Linked DNA regions of Homo sapiens. The protein of the gene in region 2 interacts with the protein of the main gene of each other region in a pairwise test. Each region holds a gene or a part of one and is shown on either strand. Other genes may lie near its edges.

What was found.
Region 1: the proteins of SERTAD2 (region 2) and ESPNL interact in binary tests that used the Homo sapiens proteins (3 or more experiments, as listed by UniProt).
Region 3: the proteins of SERTAD2 (region 2) and PLA2G6 interact in binary tests that used the Homo sapiens proteins (3 or more experiments, as listed by UniProt).

Annotation. Positions count from the first base shown.
Region 1 is NC_000002.12:238,096,189-238,103,436, reverse strand, and holds the start of ESPNL (espin-like protein), read right to left. Parts: upstream 3,098-7,248; 5' UTR 3,018-3,097; coding exon 2,724-3,017; intron 1,497-2,723; coding exon 1,306-1,496; intron 1-1,305. Other genes in the region: SCLY (selenocysteine lyase), read right to left, coding at 5,082-5,235, 6,561-6,636. UniProt on the Homo sapiens protein: Binds to but does not cross-link actin. Required for the formation and maintenance of inner ear hair cell stereocilia and staircase formation. Essential for normal hearing.
Region 2 is NC_000002.12:64,643,865-64,650,970, forward strand, and holds part of SERTAD2 (SERTA domain-containing protein 2), read right to left. Parts: intron 4,703-7,106; exon of another isoform or gene 2,561-4,702; intron 1,708-2,560; exon of another isoform or gene 1-1,707. UniProt on the Homo sapiens protein: Acts at E2F-responsive promoters as coregulator to integrate signals provided by PHD- and/or bromodomain-containing transcription factors.
Region 3 is NC_000022.11:38,178,816-38,185,998, forward strand, and holds the start of PLA2G6 (85/88 kDa calcium-independent phospholipase A2), read right to left. Parts: upstream 3,016-7,183; 5' UTR 2,849-3,015; intron 1-2,848. UniProt on the Homo sapiens protein: Calcium-independent phospholipase involved in phospholipid remodeling with implications in cellular membrane homeostasis, mitochondrial integrity and signal transduction.

The DNA.
Region 1 (7,248 bases), about 170 Mb from region 2:
TTTTTTTTGAGACATGGTCTTGCTCTATCGCCCAGGCTGGAGTGCAGTGGCACAATCCCAGCTTACTGCAACCTCCGCCTCCCAGACTCAAGTGATCCTCCCACCTCAGCCTCCTGAGTTGCTGGGACTACAGGCAGTCACCACCATGCCTGGCTAATTTTTAAATAAATTTTTTTGTAGAGATGGAGGTCTCGCTACATTGCCCAGGCCAGTCTTGAATTCCTGGGCTCAAGCAATCCTCCAGCCCCAGCCTCCCAAGATGCTGGGATTACAGGCATGAGCCACTGTGCTCGGCCCAAGTCTCCCAGTTTTCAATGGTGGAAACTTCTTTAAAAGCCGTGTGGGTCTGAGAGAGACTGTGGCCAGCCAAGGCTGAGGGTGGTGTGGACGCTCTGGAGAAAAGCCACAGAAGCGAATCCCAAAGGCCTTTGCCAAGCAGTCCAGGATGGGAACACCCGGGAATGAGAACCCGATTCCACAAGCAAGCTGTCGGGGCTTGTCCTGGAGCTAAGGGGGTGTGGGGGACTGAGGCCTCTGGGGCAGCGACAGGAAAATGAGATGCTGCCTCGAAAAGAGAAGAGCCGTGGTCAGAGGTAGGTGGGTCCCTGGGGGACAGGAAGGTTCGCCCTCAGCCAAGACAGTAGGAGGCAGAGGGCCTGTTCCTATGACAACAGTGACCTTTGTAAGCAGGGCGAGGACTGGAGGAGCTTCCAGGTGGGGAGGGAGGCCATCTGCCTTACTGGCTGTCCTGACCCTGGTCCTTCCTCGTTGCCCATCCACTAATTCCAGCAGGGGGCACAGGGCCCCAGAGACGATGAGGCCAGCGCCCGGCTCTAGGGGTCCCAGCACAGGGGTGGGGCAGTGCAGAGGCAGCTCCAGCCTCTGTGTCCCCAAGTCCACTAGACAGTCCCCACTCCTGTCAGGTGATGGGAGGGTGCCCTCACAGGTTGCCAGCTGCCCACGTCCCCAGCTGTTTTAGGTCCCGAGATGCCCCCAGGTGGGGCCAGAGCTGCCCTGGGCATCACAGCAGCATCTTGCCATCGTCACCGCCCCCAGCCACTCTCCAAGCTGAAGCACTGGCCTGTGTCCCCTTGGGCCCTGGCATGGCACTGCCACTGCCTGGCCTGTGGGTAGAGGCCTCATTGCCCTTGGCTCCTGCCAGCTCACCCCCACAGTGACAGCATGCCCGCCTGCAGGATTCACCTCAAAGGCCACCAGCCTGTCCTCTTGGCCCTCCATGGTGCAGCCTCCCCTTGGCCAGCTCGCCCCAGGCTGCCCCCCCAGGCGGGACTTTGGGCTCCTTACCTGCCATGCGCGGCTGTCAGGAGCTTGAGGCAGGTCAGGTCCCCACTGACGGCAGCGTGGTGCAGCGGCCGGGCTCCCTCCCGGGTCTCTAGCGTGGCCGAGTGGCCCTCGTGGAGCAGCCACTCCACCAGCACTGGGTGTCCAAAACGGGCGGCCAGGTGCAGCGGGGAGACGCCCGAGGCATCTTGGTCCTACCAAGCCCCGGGTAGGTCAGTGAGTGGGGGGTAGGCCGTGAGGTCAGAGCCAGCTGCCGGAGGTGGGCCCTGGGCGAGGGCTCACACTGCCTGCAACCCAGTGAAGGGGCTTCCAGCTCCTTCCTCCTTCCCTCCGTTTCTGCCTGCAACATGGAGGGAGGTGCTCCCTGCTGGGACTGAGGTGAGAGGAGGGCCAGGACTCAGGTCCAGGTCTTGGGAGGCCACCTCTGGCAACCCTGCCCTCTCCTGGGCCCGTCCCCAGTGTGGAGAAGGCCCTTTCCCACGCAGTCGGGTGCCCGCAGACACCTGCCCACTCTGCTCATGGTCAGAAAGGCTTCCCAGGACACCTACCTCTGGCTGGTCCCCTGCCCCAGTGCCCTCCCGCTGGCCACAGGGTCCCGGGGCCAGGGAGCGTTCCTACCACAGGTGTCAGGGGTCCAGCAGACCTGGGCCTTCTCCAAGGGCCCTGTCAGAATGGATCCCCAGGCAGGCACAGCTCCCGCCTGCTGCCCTTGGGTTTGGCGGAAGGGCCGACAGGAACAGGATGCTGGGCCGGGACTCTCAGGTGCTCTGGCGAGCCAGGTGCTGGGGAACCTTCCCGCTCCGCAGTCTAAGCAGGCCCCACCGGCCCCCACCTCAACTCTGACCTCTGGGCGGCGGCGTTCTAAGGCCGGTCAGTCCTGCTCACCCTCAGCCCTGAAAGCTCCACAGGGCTGAGCGACAGCTCTAAGGGCCTCGCCTGCACAAAGGGGACTGGGCAGGCAGGATAGGGGAGGGGGGCCCAGTAGAAACGATCCGGACAAGACGATCACCATCAGCAGCCCTAACTCCCGTCCCCCAGGGCTAGGCTCCCAGCTCTCAAGCCCAAGTTCCCACAGTGCTTCTGTAAGGATCCCTTTCTAGACCCTTTGGGAGGCAGGCCCTGTGGACCAGGCCTGATCAGAGACAGGGGTCCTGATATCTGGCAAGACCCCCACTGGCAACGCCCAGCTTCCTGGCAGGGAAGGTGATAAGAAAATTTAGGAGGTGTTCTTGGCTCTCAAGCCTTTGTGCTCTGAGAGGCGTGGGGCAGAGACGGTAACCACTGACTGAGTCCCCAAGAGAAACAAAGGGCCCAGGGCCATGGAGCCCGGGGTGGCCAGTACTCTGATCCTCCGTGGCTCACACCTCCCTGGTTCCACCCCAGCCAGCTTCGTGGAGCCAGGCTGCCCCATCCCCGCTCACCTGCAGACCGCAGCCCCCCTCGCGGACCAGCCAGCACAGCTCGGCCAGGCTGCCCGTGGCAGCGGCGTCATGCGCTGGGGTGGCCCCGTTGTGGGCCCGCTGGTTGCCGGGCAGCTGGGCCCGCTGCACCAAGAACTTGACGCAGTCCAGGTGGCCAGCCCGGGTGGCGTGGTGAACCAGGCCGGCCCCCAGAGCATCGGTGATGCCCGGGCCCAGGGCGCCAGCCTCCAGCAGCCGCTCCAACGTCGCCACATCCCCATCCTTGGCGGCCACGAGTGCCCGCTGCTTCTCCATCCTCTGGCCCGGGCTCTCAGTGGCGACTCATGCACAGGCTGGGGCTTCCTGTTTCAGACGTGGATGAAGCTGCCGGCTCTGGTTACCCGATAAGCTGCCACAGGGCAGATGGGAGGCGGTGGGGTGGGGTCGGGTGGGGGGACAGGCCTTGAGGACCTGCCCAAGCCACTCCCACAGTGTGAGGGTGCCAGGTGCCTGGAGCTGGGAGGATGGAGTACAGGGCACAGGGAAAGGCCCACACCAGGCTAGGTCAGGGCTGGGTATGGCCAGCAGAGAAAGGAGGCTGGCCCTGAGGCTGCTCAGATCTGTCCAGATGGCAGGAACTTCATCTGTGGAGCGAGGGCTGAGGATACACGCCACTGAGCTTCTCACAGGAGCCCCGAGTGGCCTGGGAGACAGTTCCCCCAACTCTCACAGAAGGGCAGACCCCCAGCCGCCACCACAGTGTGTCTGAAGTAAAGGGTGCCCAGTAGGTCTACATGTTTGGCTGTGTTGACACCCACAGAGCTGAGCGCCCCGCCTCTGGGTCCCGGCCCTCGGCCCTGGAGGCTCCTAGGAATCTCTGGGGACACAGTGGCTCCACGGGGCCTGCAATGGGCTCAGGACCCTGACTTGGGTGTGTCCAGGCCTCTGAGGCGAGAAGGTGTCAGCCCCTGCCTCGGCCCCCTCTCCAACTACACGGACCAAGTCTCTGGGCTGCAGCCCCAAGGGCCCAAGTACATTTAACCCCTTTCCAGATTGTTCTGGACAATCCATAGTTCTTCTTTAGGGAAGTCAGGACCACCACAGCCTCTTCCTGGCAGCAATGGGAAGCTGCAGATGGGGGACCCATTACATTTGTAGGGGCTTCCGGAGACACAGCCTCAAGCTGGATTTCTGGGCTAACGCATCATCACACAATGGTGACCTGGGGGCTGCTGCACCCCTGGCTTCCCCCCGACAGGCTCTGTCAGATGACTTTGTGCCCAAGCGCAGTGCCCACTAGAGAAACCACAGGATCCCCAAGTCGGGCACTGAAATCTTTTATTCGTTAATTTAGTTTCTGGCAAGTGTTTCCTCAAAATCATCAAGTAGTTCCTTGAACCGTAAAACCACACATTAAAAATGTTATTCCACTGAAAATGACTCCTATGCAAATATCGACATGTGATGTGTGTCCAAATGCCAGAGCATTTTGAGAAAAGAATCCTCTGCAAATAAAATTAAGGTAAAAGCTGAGTCAGGGATGATCCGATTCCCACCCCAGGAATGACCTGGAGCTGCACCAACTCAGCGAGGTTGGAGCTGAAACCCTGAGTTAATAATGATCAAAAGGGACAAGACAGGAAGGCCTGGGGACCGTGGACAGGGAAGTGCGCAGCCCTGATTGCCAGTGGGCGGAACAGGGTCAGGCTCGGGGAAGCAGGAGGGGTGGTGGGCGGTGGGCGCTGAGCAGAGCAGGCCTGGCCGAGGCTGGGGGCCACTGTGCACTGAGGCCAGAGGAGCAGGGTGGTGGGGGCAGCTTTGGAAAGGGACTAAAAAGGGCCTGAGAAGAGACCACTCTGGAAAGGTGCATGTAGAGGCCATGATCAAAACAAAAAAATCAAGTTTCCTACGTTCATGATAGCATTTGGCTGACAATGAGTTATAAATACTTGGATTCTATCTTCCAGATAAAAACACCTTCCAGGAAAGGGCACTCACAACAGGCGTGCCCAGTTCCCAGTGGGGAGGGTGGATAAAGCTAAGTGTTTCCGCTTCACCACTGGAGGACGGTTCTATGTGGGCGGTCCCATGTGGGCGGTCCCATGTGGGCGGTCCCATGTGGGCGGTCCTATGTGGGCGGTCCTATGTGGGCGGTCCCATGTGGGCAGTCCTATGCGGCGTTGGTGTCCTGGGCCCTGTGAGCTCTGCAGGGGTCCAGGGAAGGAAACTGGGGGTGCACACTCGCTGGCACTCCAGGACAAAATGCAGAGGGGGCATGAGACAGTCATCCTGGCACAGCCCTCAGGAGGGAACTGGAGGGACAACCCTGTGCCCTGCCACGGGCTTCCCAGAAGCGGGGTGGGGAAGGCGGCCCCAGTGCTAGGCCTGGTCCTCCAGCTGCGCCACGGCCTGCTTCAGGTCCTGCACGACGAGGTCCACCTCGGCCCTGGTGGTGCTGCGGCCCACGCTGAGCCGGAGCGCGTTCCTGGCCACGTCGAAGGGGACACCGTAGCTCAGCAGCACTGGGGACGGCCTGGGGAGGGCGAGACCGAGCTGCAGCTGCTGCTGAGGGCACATGGAAGAGACACAGCCCCCCCTGCTCTGGACCACTCCCCTAGTGGGGCTCTGCCCACCCGGATGTGCGCCTGCCTCGCCTGGCATCCACCTCCTGCTAAACTCCCAGACCAAGCACACCCCTAAGATCACCCACATCAAGGTGTGGCTCAAAGTCGCCCCCGTTCTCCCTGCAGAGTTCTCTTGCACTTGGCACTCCCAGGTGACACTGCCTCCCTCTCGCACTGAGCTCTGGGGCCAGGGGCTCTCCTGTCCTTGAGGGGTCTGAGGTCCTGGAGAACACGGATGCCGACACAGACAGTGCCTTACCCATGCGGCCCACCTGAGCCACTTGGTAACTTCATGGCACCTAGCATGGGGCTTTGCAGACACTAGGGACCCAGTCAGTATCTAGCCATGAACAGATGACTGCGTGGGGACATCCTGAAGCAAGGCTGTTGGAGGCTCGAGATGTGGGCTCTGTCAAGGGGCCTGACCTCATCACACCCGGGTCCCTTTCCTCCCCTGCCCCTCCTGCAGCAGGGCACTGTCCCCCCAACAAAGGGCCCCATCCTGCCCCTCCTTTTCCCTGGAGCCAGGCCCACCACTGTCTCGCTCCAGGTGCTCCTGCACAATCCCTCTGCCCTGACCTTGATGGCCACGTGCTGCTGGCTACAGTTCCGCTCTCTCCCCAGAACCCTGAGTGTTCCTCCTGCGTCCACTCCGACCTCCCACAGGGGCCTCACGTTTTCAGCAGACCAGACCCAGAACCACTTCTCCCCTGCTGCCAGCAGGCCGCTGCTCGGGCACCCCACGCCCTCTACCCCACAGTCTCCGCCAGGCAGCCCACCCGCTCACCCGGGCCCTGCTATCTGAGAATCTCTGCTGCATCTTGCAGATGGCTGATCTGACACCTGAGTCTGCTCACACCATGGCCCTCAGGGCTCCCACTTCCATGAGGTTTAAGTAAGCACTGACACTCAGGCCATCCCCACCCCAGCCCACCCCAGCCCGCCCCAGCCCTCCCCAGCCCCGGCCACGCTGGCCCTCCAGGCCCTGCCCTCCCTCCGCCTTCAGAACTGAGCACGAGAAGCCCTCTTCTCCCGCACAAGTCCTAGTCCTTCAGATGGCAGCTTGGAAGTCACTTCTTCCAGGAAGCCCTCCCTCTGCCCCTCCTAGGGCCCAGACAGGGCTGTCCTTCACCAGCCAGAGTGCGGCCCAGTGGCCGGATCCTGCCGCCTGCCCACCACACCCAGTGCCCGGAGGACCCCTATGCCCTGGACTGGGTTTGTGAAGAGCACTTACTGGTCCCCGTGGTCCGAGTGGCACGCGGCCCCCACACTGGCCATCAGCACTCGGCACTGCGCAAGCACCACGTGGCCTGCGGAGACAGAGCACATGCCCCTGAGATGGGGCTCCAGCCAGGTTGCCCTTCTGTCCCTTCCCGGGGTCCTGCTGGGCGCAGGCTGCTTCCCTCCCTCTGTGCCACCTGGTGGAATTCCAGCACTGGCCATTCTGGCAGCTGGGGAGAGATCTCACAGCAGGAGCCGAAGAAAACGCTTCCTTTCTCCCTTGGCTGCACAAACGCAGACACTATTCTGCCTCACAAAGCTGGCCTTGAAAATCGCATTTGTAATCAACTGCCTGCTAAGACACCTGGAGTCCTGACCCGCTCCTTCCTTACAAGCTGGCAGCCCCGGCAATATCACGTCTCCACCTGTGTTCTGGATGGTAGAGACACGTGGGAGTTCTATTAAGCCAGAAGGCATTTCCCTCTTCTTTCACAAGCACAGCCATTAATGACTGCTGATGTAATTAACCTGAGAATTTCAGCCAGGTGCAGTGGCTTACACCTGTAATCCCAGCACTTTGGGAGGCCAAGGTAGAAGGACTGCTTGAGCCAGGAGTTTGAGACCAGCCTGGGCAACACAGGGAAACCCTATCTCTACAAAATATTTTTTAAAAATTAGCCAAGGCCGGGCATAGTGGCTCA
Region 2 (7,106 bases):
CCAAAAAAACAAAACAAAACAAAACAAAAAAAACACCAAGCTGTATCCCTAACCTCATCAGACACACTGTCCCATATGGCTGCTGGTGTGACCACTGGTTGCTGACAAGTCTAGAGGTGTCAATGCTAACGCTAAAACCAGAAAGATGAGGCCTTTAACCCAACGCCAACACTCAAAGTAGTGATCTGCCCTCATGTACCCACCTCTTTGGAAGAAAAAAGAAGTGTGGCGATTGTCTTATGAGAAGGCTGGCAGCGGTCCTTCCCTTCCCCTGACATACTGTGCCACCAAAGCCCACAGCCCTAAGTGGAAACACATTCATACTCCTGGTGTCTTTTGGTGGTGGTGGTAGAAGAAAGGGGTGCCCCTGGTAAAATTAGCTGGGCATGTGGCAGACTTCTGAGCCGAAAAGAGGCTCAAAGTAGGGCCAGGATTGTTTTGAGACAACTTCTGAAACACAGAATATGCTGTTTCTCTTCTCTTCACTCCACAGGCTGGTCTCCCAGTGCGTTTAGGACCCTGCTTTTGAGGCATCCAAGTGGGAGAGCCTCTGTTCATGACAAAAGGGAACCTCCCACCAGCCTGAGGGCGGGACGCTGAGGACCCCAGAGCCCTGCCTCCAGGCTGCTGTCGTAGTGTGACACAGCAACTTCCGAGCAGGAAGGAGAAGCCCGATCCTAACTGGGGGAAGCTGTTTGCTTAGACAACTTTCTACACTTCAAATATTACACCTTAAACAACACACTGGACTAAGAAATCTGATCATGTCCAGGCTTTTAACACCCTCCTCCCCCAAGGAACAATAAAACACACCAGCGAAAACAAAGAGGCTGCCCTGAAAAGGTTGCAGTGGTGGATGATACTGGCAGAATCAGAAAGGAAGCTAAGAGAAACAGGCGCGTCCTCAGCCGGGCCTCGCGTGTCCTGACACTGCAGCAGGCACGGGATGTGGGCTGTCCCCTCCAGCACAGTGCGGGAAGGTGCTGGGGCATCCAAACAGCAAAAGCAAACCTGAGACCCCAAAACAACTGCGTCTGGCCCAGGGGAGTGGGCAAAAATTCCAACAGGGAGAGACCGTCTCTGGCTTATTTACAGACAGGGTAAGTAAGGATGCCCAAAGACAAGGCGGAGTATTAGTAACAGAACTCATGAAGTTCTATGGATCGGGATGCTTTAAAAAAAAAAAAAAAACACCAAAGCTCATCCAGAATGTCTGAGGTCCCTGCAGTAACATCCATGCTAATTGGTAAGTAAGACAAAGCCTCCCCTAACAAATCAGCAATGTAATTATAAAGCCAGTCACTAGATCAAGCCAGTCTCCTGTGCTCCAGCGATATTCTGAACCTGTAACCCGATACCACTGTTTGCTGCCGGCGCCTCCTCCGGGCTCTCCCGCTGCGCACCGGCCGCGCGGGGGCCCGCAGGGCAACGCAGCCTAGGCTGTTTGTGCAAGATGAGACCCTGCATTTGACGAAGACCTGCAGGAGCAATCCTCCCGGCTTTCTTGACAGTGAAGAAGAAGAAGAAGAAAAAAAAAGCCTGACGATACACTGAAATTCGAACAGGAAGTCAAGCCCCAAGTAAATTTAAGAAACAACTTTTACTGTTTGGGGTTGTTTTCTAAAGTCCAAATTTTTAAAATTCTAGTTTCTCCTCTCAGATTTTTACATGCTCCTATTAAATTGAAGGCAATTTCCAATACTGGAGGTTTGTCAAATATAAACTTTTCTCCTAGTAAAATAATTTTTTAAAAATGTTGACAGCTGCATTTAGTAAGCAAAAACATAGTCAAATTCTGGGAGGGAATGTTTCAAGTAAATATTTCTTTAGAATAAATTATGGCCTTGTTAGTACACATCTGGAAAGAGAATAGGCTTTTTAGAATATAAATGTCAAGTGGTATAAAATGTTTCTTATATCCTGTCTTAGTGGTTCCTCTGCCAGCTGGGAATTTTAAGTTTTAATCCCAACTCTTATGAAGCTATGGACACCAATTACCTTCTTCCAAGGACAATGAGAATGCTGCCAATTGTTTTATTTTATCTAAGGATTCTGGCTAAAAGTATGGTACACTTGATTTAAAAAAAAATTAGAAAAATGCTTTGTTTTCTCAGTTTTAAGGAATTTTTTTTAATTTATAAGGAAAAAGGATTACTTGGGAATGGCACACTTAATTCAAGTAAAAGGTTGAGTAGAATTATACAGTTTCTAACCTTAACTTAACAAAAACATAATATGCTCTGATGCCTGGAATTTGCTTTAAAATACTCCAAAACAAACAAACAAAAAAAAACCCAAAACCTGGCCATGTAGATGAAACAAGATTTGACAAAATGTTGATACCTGCTGAGGCTGGCTGATAAGTACAAGGCGGTGCTTTGTACTCTTCCTTTTACTTTTGAATGTGTTTGGAATTTTCCATAATAAAAAGTTAAAAACCACAGCACGCCAATACATATTTCTAAATTAAAACATATAAAATGAGCACAATAAATTACTCACACCCCCAGTGAAAACTATTATATTAATTTGATAGGGTTTTTTTTTTTTCTTCACACAGAAGAAAGCTATTAGTGCTCCATGTAAACAAGCACGCCCAATTCAAGTTGGAACTCTTTAAATTCTGGAAGACAGCACATCACATCCAGCCACGAGGGGGCGCAGCCGAGCAGCAAGGAGCGCAAAAGTCTCATTCTTCACTGCAATTTCTACCTACAGCTCTCTCAAAGTATACACATTTTCAAGATTGTTTCCAAATTCAGGTATCCACAGGACACTGCTAAGCAAGCTGGGAGCTTTGCCAAGGCCAAAATAAATTAAATTATGGTACGGTTCAAACTCTGGAAGTACTGTGTATAGGAAAGGTTGTTTCTCTGTATATAAAAGTTAATACTGGTATTTCAAAAACCATGGTTAAAATCCCTGGAGGATTCCTGAAATGAGAACAAACACACAACAACAAACACACACCCAAGTCATGAGATGTGAACGTGGAGAAACCAACAGTTCAGAATTTCCAGTGGGGCTTGCAACATGGACTCCCAATAAAACAATGAGTCTCAATAAATTCGGCACTAAGCTTTTACCAGTATAGATAGACGCCTTTACTGGGCCTACTTACTACTTCTTAATAACTATAAATTATCTCCATACTGAACAGATACTGCTTCAGGCAGTTATTTGGGAAAACCCTTCATAAAGGACATTGGAGAGGGGCCATTTAATTATAAAATGTAACACAGTTAACCTTAGGGAGATGATGAAGCGAGATCATTATGTGTAACTACTTGCTGGGATTCTTTCTATTTAAATTATAAGTTCAGGTTATATGATGTTGTATGTTCAATAATAATGCTCATAATAGATGAAATGTTATAATGAGTCTCCACATTTGAAAATTGGAAACTATAAACATATCTATATTTTATAATCATTTGAATTGTGATACTACTTCATAATAATTTGGTGTCAGAGTATGTTTTTAGCATTTTGAGTCTAAGGCCTCATTAACATTAGGGTAAGGAACTCTCAGATTTGACAATTTTTCCCATAAGATTACGTGCTTTACTAGTAAAGACTAGCCAGCATTGCCCAACCTCCCATTCTCGGGCATAATGAAAATATTTTTTCTCCTGTATTTATAATTGCTTGGATGGGATTCTGTTTCAATCCTCCTGTAGCATCTTTTCCCTAAAGATACACTGTTTTTCTCCCTCACACTAGAGACCCTTAATAAACAATGTCAAGGAGGTGGGGAACTTAGAGTAGAAAGGAAAGGCTTTGCCAAAAGTATGTGACAGTTTTTGTGTTTAAAAAAAAAAAAAAAGACTCAAGATATATGTAAGTCTTACTAAAACAGGGAAATATAAGGTTTTAGAACAATTCTGTGAAAGATAAAATTACATCTTAGTTAAAACCAAAGGTGGCCTTCTAGGTTTTATTAGACAACTATTTGCCACTGAATAAAACTAAGGAATAAAAGTAAAGTATGCTACTTCAAGAAATGCTTCAATGGAAGCTTTTCTTAAAAGTTAAAAATTAAAAACTAGTCATGCCTTCAAATCTGGATGCTTCATTACTATCAAAGAATCACTTAAAATATTCCTTACAAATACAGAACATATTTCATCTTATAACTTATCCGTGCAGTCCAAAGAGGAAAACCTGAGAAATGTTGTTTCTTTTACTTACTGTGTAAAACTGAACATTGTATTGTACGGCCTAAACTTGGATTCCCTAGAGAACAATATCACATTTCTACAACATGACATGAGTACAAAAATTTGAGGTGCAGGATAATAGAAATATACTTGAGACATGCAAATGGAAGGAAATAACTATTTTATGTAATACCTGTCCCATGTAAGTAACCTACATGTTCCGAATGTTTAATTTGGTTGCCTCTAAGAATTAGGTAGGCTAATAAGGTTTTACAAAGACAATTTAAACTTTGTATCATATACCTGAATAATTCACACACAGACAATAATTGTAGAAAGAAAAAGGCAATGAGGATACAACTAAACTTGAGGGGAGTAAATGATACTTTGTAAATATGGCAGCCATTAAAGAATAACTACTTTGGGACTATTTTGAGATAAAATGTTTGTCTTCCCAAGGACTTCTGTGCATTGATAATGAATGGCTCATTGAACTTTAAGCTATGTCACTTAAATACAATAAAAATAATCAGAGTACCACACTAAATGTAATAACTATTTATTTTCTAAGGAAAATACTTCATAATTCTTCAATTACCTTCAATGGTCTTCATGGAAAGCCTTCCTCAACCTCCCCAGCCTGCCACCCCCAGCCTGCCACTCTATTCATTCTACCTGTCTTCTGGAGCTTTAGAAGGAGGCAGGAACCACCTGAAGAATTGAATTTTTAATGTGTAAACCAACTACTTGTCAGAGAGCTAAGAATCACTGCCAGTGAAACGTATTTTATTTTATATTTCTGGACATGGTAAAACTATTTAAAAAAATTAGTTTGCCTTAAAAAGTTCAGAAAAGACCACCAAGTTCCTGACAAGCAGAGAGGCAGAGCAAAAATTCTTCCACTCTGGATCATAGCACCCAAATTCCTCAGGCAGATTGGTTTTCTCTGATAGCACGGAAGACACAGGAGAGGTACAGATGGGCAGGGAGATGTCCCCTCAAAGAAGGAAAGAAATCTGAAAAGCAAATCTGTATCACCTATTATAAAATGGGATAACCACACAGGGAAGATCAGTTTAAAGCAGCTGCCAGCTCGATATCTCATTAGCGTGACTAGGATTTTATGCAAACCTGTTCTGGTGTAGAGATGACCTTGGGACTTTCAGATTCTCTGAGTTTAACTTGGGCAATACTTCTAAACACAAGGGTGGGGTACACCAGCAGGCCTGCTCCAAACCCCAGGAGCTGCAGTGCATGGCGTGGAATGATAAGCAGCCGGCCGGAGCAGAGGCAAGCAAAGCGCTAAAGGCTGATCTGGAGCAAGAGACTTTTGATCATTTAGTGTTTTTGACCATGGTCTATTCAAGTGTACATTTTACTTTTCTTCAACAGGTTCACTCAGCCCACTGTTAAACATCAGTGAGTGTGCATATGGATATACAGAATATATAGACATAGATCATGTCTGTAAGAACCAGAATCCCTTCCCCTTTACTATTCTATGGGAAAGTCCTTAGAGAATGCTTAGCTTCTTTTCAGTTAACTGCCTAGGAAGGTTTTTAAAGGAAAAAAGCTTAGAATTAATTAGTAACTCTGCAAAGCTACAGGTTTTTGTAAAGTGACAAAAAAGATAGTAAGGCAGACATGAATGAGTTTTAAGAACTGAAGTTTGCTGCTACCTGGAGTTACTAGAGAAACAAAGCTGCCTTTGGGCACCTCAAACTAGTCAGACCTGCTATAGCAGTTGCACAGTCAGCTCCAGATCTGTCCTCTGCTCTTCTCCCTCCAGCCCCCACCCCACGCCTCCGCATAGCTCAGTCCACTCTCTACTCAGGGTGGAGGTGGGCCGGGCACACTCACCCCTTGATCTGCTGTCCCTGTGGGGAGGCAGGGCCAGCTCTGGCCAGACAGTGTGCAAGTGTAAGAATAGGCCGGCCAGGAGCACAGATGCCAACTCCATTCTGAGCTGAAAACTGCAATGGGTGCGGAATACAGCTTAGGTGATCTTGGGTTTCCAAAATAGATCAATCAAATTGTGGGGTTTACTTCAGAGAATCCTAGCATTAAGTTCAGATGAGGGACAGAGGATTCTGAGAAAAGACAAATGGGTCTTTCCAGCTTTGGGATCCCTCAGACCACAAAGAGGGCAGAATTTTCAAAAGAGAGTTTGCGCTGTCTATATGTGGTGCTTGTTCAAACTGGCAGTATCTGTTCTGTCCTATTAGAAATCATATATTATAAAATATATTGTGATATTTTACTTTAAAATTTTCATTTGTATTTCAAAGAAAATTTTTAGACAGCCAATCATGTTTTGTTTGTCTCGTGATCTCCGAGAAAAAAAAAACAAAACAAGGAGTCTATTTATTACTCAGAATAGGAATGTCGTCTTATTGGGCTGACATATGCCATTCACAGATTCATACAAAGAATGAACTGCCACACAGTGCTAATGGAGAAAGACACTGCTCCACACAATGAGTGACGGACGCTCCAGGGGACAGTTCTGTTCATAAGGGTTTCCCAGCATCTGCACACAGGGCATAAGTTTGCCTTTAATATCAACTGCACTGGCCATTTGAGACAATCATTTTTTCTAGATTAGTAGCCATTTCCTTCAAACATACTAAAACTAAATGAAATAGCCACACATTTCTTAAACAGGAGTCCTGGCTTGTGGCTTTCTACCAATTGCTTAATGAGTAATTATTAACAATATGTACAAAATATATGAGTTGTGCATATAAAGTGGCCATGGCACTTTTAGATTTTCATGTTTTGCTAGTCAGTATTAATTAACAGAAAGACCTATGAGAGCTGGTGTCACCCTTATTGTGAGGCCATTTTCATGTCAACTGGAGCTTGCCTTCTGGTGCCTTCAGTACACAACTGATCTTTGGACTCAGTAATCAGAGACGGCGCCTGCGCTTGCTCTCTCTCTCACGC
Region 3 (7,183 bases), on a different chromosome or scaffold from region 2:
AGATCGCACCACTGCGCTCCAGCCTGGGCAACAGAGTGAGACCCTGTCTCAAAACCAAAACAACCAACCAACCAAAAAAAACCCCACAAAATCCCTGACATCCTGGAACTTATATTTTAGACAGAGCTACTAATAATAAAGAAGATAAACAGGTAAATATTTACAAAGGTTTTAGATGACAATTAACTACTGAGGAGAAAAACCAGAGAATGGGGATAGGAAGTGCTGAGGTGGAGAGTGAAATTTTAGATTGGGTGAGGAGAGAAGTCTTCACCAAGAAATTGATCTTAAATAAATACCTGATGGAGAGAGATGAAAGTCATATGAATAGCTAGGCAAAGAGAGCGTGTGCAAAGGCCATGGGGCTGGAACATGTTTAGCGAGTTCCAGGAAAAGCAAGGAAGCCAGTGACATCAGAGAGGCAACAGGGGGCCAGGCATGTGCCATGAGAGGAGAGGCCACTGCAAAGAAACAACATTTTAACAAGATCACTCTGGCTGGGTGTGGGGTAAGAAACAGAGAGGCATCATAGATAATCTCACAGCTTTGACCTGAGCAACTGAATGAACAATACTCCTATGTCCTAAGATGAGAAAGAGAGTGGGAGGGACATGTTTTGGTGAAGAGTGGGGTCAGGGATGGAGGGCAGAACTAACAGGAGCTCAATTCTAAACTCTTAAGTTTGAGGCCTGGCGCGGTGGCTCACACCTGTAATCCCACCACTTTGGGAGGCCAAGGCAGGTGGATCACTTGAGATCAGGAGTTCGAGACCAGCCTGGCCAACACGGTGAAACCCCGCCTCTACAAAAATACAAAAATTAGTTGGGCATGATGGCGCATGCTTGTAATCCCAGCTACTTGGGAGGCTGAGGCAGGAGAATCAGGAGGTGGAGGTTGCAGTGAGCCGAGATCGTGCCATTGCATTCCAGCCTGGGTGACAGAGTGAGACTCTGTCTCAAAAAATAAATAAATCAATAAATAAATACTTCAAGTTTGAAAAGCCTAAGTTTGAGGTGCTGAGTAAGCAACTAGATTTGAGTATGTCATTCCAGGGAAAGGTCTGGACTGGACTGGGGATATAAATTTGTGGGCTGACAGAATAGAGACGGCACTTAAAGAAATAAGACTGGATGAGATCACCATCCGAAAACGAGAAGAGGCATTTAAGACATGACCCTATCAAAATCCACTGTGAAAGACACAGAACATATTCTCCCAGGGAGCCACCCTCTACAAAGTGAAGTTTGTAACACACTCTTCACTACGGCCCCTTACTCCTTGCCTACCTACTTCCCCCAGCACACACACCCAATAGATGTCTGCAGACACACACACACACACACACACACACACACACACACACACACAGAGTATTTAAATTTCTCCTTTCTGTATCTCTTAGTGATGTCATTCTGCTGAGTAAGAGGGAAACTCCCTTTTGGGGAGTCTCTCATGTAACAAGAAAGTAATCCACGGAAGGAACAAGAAGTGTCCTAAACAGTAGCAAACCTTACACATCAGGACAATCACACAGGCTCTGGTGTCAGATTCCAGCTTCAACCTCATCGGTGTGACCTCAAGCAACTCATGCGCCCTCTTTTTCTCATGTGAAGTGAGAATATCATTGGCCACACCAAGGGTAGCCTAGAACATCAGACAGTCCGTAAATATTTGTTAGATAAACGATGACTGAATGAATGGTGAAGAGAACATATACAGAAGAGCCTGACTCACAAGAGGTGATGAACAAACACTGCCAAATGATACACTGAAAGACAAGGGACCTCCTGCTCATCCTTCTCTCCTTGTCTTCTCATTCTAGCCCTTTCCCTTTCCACTCCTTTCAATTCTGCCTATGACCCAACAGTAAAATCATGTATTTGTACAGGGCCATACTGGTTATAAAGCTTTACCTTCTACATTTTCTCATTCAAATTTTGAACCTCATGGCAGACTTACGAGGGCAGGAGGTACAGTTCCCCTGTCACAGATGAGGAAACTGAGACTTGGACAGAAAACAGGTTCCAAACTCCAGGCAGAAACTCTAACAAAAACAATGCATTCAAAAACAATGCATTCAGCCCAAGGGTGCAGCCTCAACGTTGCCAAACCGAACCTGCCTGACATCCTGTTGGGCGGGTAAGAGGCAGGTGAGGGAAAGACCCAGAAGCTAGGGGGAGGTATTCGTTGGGGTCATGTGGGTAGCCCATTAAAAATACGGCCACAGGTCCCCTTGCCCTGTGCCCTCCCTGTCCCACACCCACAGGCTTGCCCCGACCCAGTCCCATGATCACCCTGGTCACATGCTCCCTGTCACCAGCTTCCAAGTCATCTGTGGGAGCAGGAGGTGGACACAGGATTAGGGGTGGGAGACTCTGGGGTGGCCAGGCTGAGGGGAAGGAGGGAGCATGTCGGGGGCAGGTCTGGAGGCACGCGAGAGAGGAAAGGCAAGGAAAAAAAGCAGGGAGGAAAGGCAGGAGAAGCAGGGAGTGAGAAATGAGTAGAGGCACCACGAAAGGTGGAGACGGACGTGAAGTGGGGAATCAAGTGAGCACTTAGAGGAGCACAGGAAGGAAAATTAGGACGGCCAATGGGGCCTAAAGAGGCACTGAGGGTCGGGGAAAGAGAAGAGATGGATTGACTCGGGAAGTTAGGGATACTGAGGGAGACACACGGAGGAGACTGGGGTTCAGGGGAGAAACTCAGGGTCGAAGCTGGGGTCCCTGGGGTCCACAAGTTCGAGATGAGACACGGGCGGTCTCGGGATGGGAATTGGGGACGCAGGGGGATGAAAAGATGGAAGGTGGGGGCACTCAGGGAGTCACATAAGGGTTAATGGAGGACATGCCTCAGAATCGGAGACACGAGGAATATCCAAAGGAGGGTCCGGCGGAGACTTGGGAGTCCGGAGCGCCGAGGAAGTTGGGGAACGGACCCCCAGGCCCCGCCCACCCGCGAGGTCACTCACCTCGGCTTACTCAGCACTTCTACTTCCTCCTACTTCCGCAAACAAACGGGCCTCGGGCCACGTGATGGCCTGACCACCGCTCTCCGCCAATCACTGGTGGCCCTGTCCCAGGCCTCCTCTAGGCTCCGCCCCCGCGCCCGAGGACGGCGGGAGGCGGGGTCCGCCATTTTTTTTAACTGCCCAATGGAAGGGGCTCCCTTAGCCAGGAGGACGAGCTTTCGGCGGGAGCCAATCCTCGGCGGCGAGGCGCGGCCATGTTTGTGCGGGGCAGAAGGTGCCCGGCTTCTTGGCAGTCCTGTTGATGAGGGCCAGGAGTCCTACCCTAGTCCGCCTTCCGCCTCCTAAAGCGACCAGAGCCTGGAGTCTGAAGTTACTGTTAATGATTGCTCGTAAAGATAAAAATAAAGGCAACAGAGGCATAGGGCATAACAAGGAGGAACCTGTTTTGATTTTTGCCAGGTAGCCTCAAGCCAGGGTTGCCAGATGTAGCATATAAAAAATACGGGATGTTAAGTTACATTTGAATTTCAGCTAAACAGCCAATACATTTTTTTCCGATAGAACAGAAATTGATTATAGCTTTTTTATTTTTCACAACTAAGGCCAAATTCCCTAGGGGAATTACCACATGTCCTTTTTTTTTTTTTTTTTGAGACAAGTCTCGCTCTGTCGACCATGCTGGAGTGCAGTGGCACGATCTCGCTCACTGCAACCTCCGCCTCCCGGATTCAAGCGATTCTCCTGCGTCAGCCTCCCGCGTAGCTGAGATTGCAGGCGCCCGCCACTACGCCCAGCTAATTTTTTGTATTTTTAGTAGAGACGGGGTTTCACCATGTTGGCCAGGCTGGTCTCGAACTCCTGACCTCAAGTGATCTGCCCGCCTCAGCCTCCCGAAGTGCTGGGATTACAGGCGTGAGCCACCACGCCCGGCTCCGAAATTTTTAACATAAGTATAATATACTAAGTTTAGTATTGTGTTAAAAATGTGTGCATTGTTGTCTGGCAACACACCCTGAGCCAGTCTCAGGAAATACCTTAGCACTTTCAGTAGGAACTTGGGCAAATGATCTCTGTGAACCTCAGACCCATCATCCAGGAAGTGGGCACAGTAATACAAGATTGTTGTAATATCTAGAAGTAAATTGGTCCCCATTCGTGCACATAGTGGGATTTCAATAAATGGCAGTTGTTAGGGTTAATAATGCCGATAATGAGGTATTTTGCAGAGAAGCCAGGAGACTAGACTTTAGTCACACATCTGCTTCGGACTGAGCAGGTCATGTCCTCTCTTCAGCCCACTGGCTTGGTTGGACCTTTTCTTTCCCTAATAATCACCCAACCCTAGGTCTAGATGAATCTGCCAGACTGCTCTCCATTTACGTGGGAAGTATAGTTGCGGGTGTCATTCTTGTGAAAAGAAGCGTGTAGGCCGGGTGCGGTGGCTCACGCCTATAATCCCAGCAGTTTGGGAGGCTGAGGCGGGTGGATCACTTGAGGTCAGGAGTTTGAGACCAGCCTGACCAACATGGTGAAACCCCATCTCTACTAAAAATACAAATAATTAGCTGGGTGTGCTGGCCATAGTCTGTAGTCCCAGCTGCTCAGGAGGCTGAGGCAGGAGAATTGCTTGAACCCAGGAGGCAGAGGTTGCAGTGAGCCAAGATCATGCCACTGTACTCCAGCCTGGGTGACAGAGCCAGACTCTGTCTCAAAAAAAAAAAAAGTGTGTTTCCTCCTTAGTCCGTCTAAAGATATTAGTGCCTAGACAGGGCAGCCAATGCAACTTGCGCAAGGTTTAGTTAAGAATCTTCACAGGTTAATGAAATTAACCATCTTAACTAATATCTGTACAGAGCTTTACCAGTTACAAAGTGACTTCACTTCCATCATATCCTCGTGTCCCCATTTTACAGGTGAGGAAATTGTTCCTTAAAGTAAGATTTAAAATTTGCTTAAGAGTTTCAGCTTGACTGCGCACAGTGGCTCACGCCTGTAATCCCAACACTTTGGGAGGCCGAGGTGGGCAGATCACTTGAGCTCAGGAGTTCAAGACCAGCTTGTGCAACATGGAGAAACCTCGTCTTTAAAAAAAATACAAAAATTATCCAGGTGTGGTCTTGCATGCCTTTGGTCCCAGCTACTGTGCAGGGGAGGCCGGGGGGTCAAGGATGCAGTGAGCCAAGATCGCCTGCACTCCAGCCTGGGTGACAGAGCGAGACCATGTCTCAAAAAAAAAAAAAAAAAAGTTTCAGCTTGAAGTGGAGAGAAAAGGATAAAGACTCAGAATTCTCAATGAAAATATCTTGCCTCCACACCCCAAACAAGCAAAGTTAGAGCGATGGTTATCAAGGAGCTTGCAAAAGGCCATGCATTCCACGCACTGCCAAGCAATCTTTCCTTCCTGAGAAAACCCACAGGGGCAACATGAGGTGTCCCATTCTTCAACAAACACCCACCCTTGCATTCAGGATTTTGCAAAGCACATTTGGAAATGCAGATACACAGGTGAATCTAAAATGCAGACAAGGGCCAGGTGTGGTGGCTCATGCCTATAATCCCAACACTTTAGGAGGCTGAGGCGGGTGGATTACCTGAGGTCAGGAGTTCGAGACCATTCTGACCAACATGGTGAAACCCCGTCTCTACAAAAAAATACAAAAAAATTAGTCAGGCGTGGTGGCAGGCAACTGTAATCCCAGCTACTGGGGAGGCTGAGGCAGAAAAATCTCTTGAACCCAGGAGGTGGAGGTTGCAGTGAGCTGAGATCACACCAGTGCCCTCCAGCCTAGGCGACAGAGCAAGACCCCATCTCAATAAATAAATAAATAATAAAATGCAGAAAAGGCCAAGAGAGGCTGGATCAATTGCTGGAAACAGTCAAAGATCCACAGAAGACATTCACAAAATAGAATCTCAGTACCTGATGAAGTTAAGTATCCCTTCCCTAGGTATTTCTGGTGGAAACCATTTAATGAGTAGATAAATCAAAAGATGGAATAGAGGGGATTATTAGGTAGCATTGAATGAGCAAGTAAAGGGATGGGGCAAGTAAGCACGAGGGAGTGTGTTCTGTAGTGCTAGCAGATGGAGCTGCTAGCAGTTAAAGTCAAAAGAACTTCTCCTGAGGTGTTGTGCTAGGCTCCTCCCATACATCAGGGAGGGCGTCTGCCCTCTAAGAGCCCAGAGCACAGAGGGTCAGACTAGACTAATCTTTTCCTTCAAGGAGCTAGATGGAAATCTAACTAACATGCTAACAGTGCAATATCACACCTTTTACTTTTTTTTGGAGACAGAGTCTCCCTCTGTCACCCAGGCTGGAGCGCAGTGGCGCGATCTTGGCTCACGGCAACCTCCACCTCCCAGGTTCTAACTGATTCTCCTGCCTCAGCCTCCCGAGTAGCTGGAATTACAGGCGTGCACTACCACGCCTGGCTAATTTTTGTATTTCTAATAGAAACGAGGTTTCACCAAGTTGGCCAGGCTGGTCTCAAACTCCTGACCTCAGGGGATCCACCCGCCTCAGTCTCCCAAAGTGCTGGGATTACAGGTGTGAGCCACCACCCCCAGCCGACTTCTTACTTTTTTATCCTTGCAACAGCCCTGTGATATAGTACTGCCATCCCCACTTTGTAGATGAAGAGAATGAGGTTCCACAAGGGAAAATTATCCCCAGAGTTGCCAATGAGAGGCAGTGCCAGTTGCCAGTGTCAACGAGAGGCAGAACCAGAATCAGCACCTGTCTTGTCTTTTCTCTCTCCAAACTCTAGGAGCACTCATTATGTGCCAGGCAGTGTTCTTGGTGCACGTGTAATCCCAGGCACTGAACAAAATGGACAAAAATCCCTGCCTTTGTGCTGCTCACATCCTGGTGGGGAAAGACGGAGAATAAACTAGATAGAGAAGGAAACAGAGAGTGTGTTTTGCTAATGTCTTTGAGTGAGGGTGTCATCATGTTAGCATCTTACATTCAAAGCACCTTAACTGTGGGATCTGGGCATGTCTATTTGAATACCTTTGCACTAGTCCTCCAATTATCTGTGTGTTTGAACTTTTTCTTTCTTTCTTTCTTTTTTTTTTTTTTTTGGAGACAGGGTCTGGCTCTCTCACCCAGGCTGGAGTGCAGTGGGGTGATCTTGGCTGACTGCAATCTCTGCCTCCTGGGCTCAAGCGATCCTCCCATCTCAGTGTCCTGAGTAGCTGGGACTACAGGTTCAG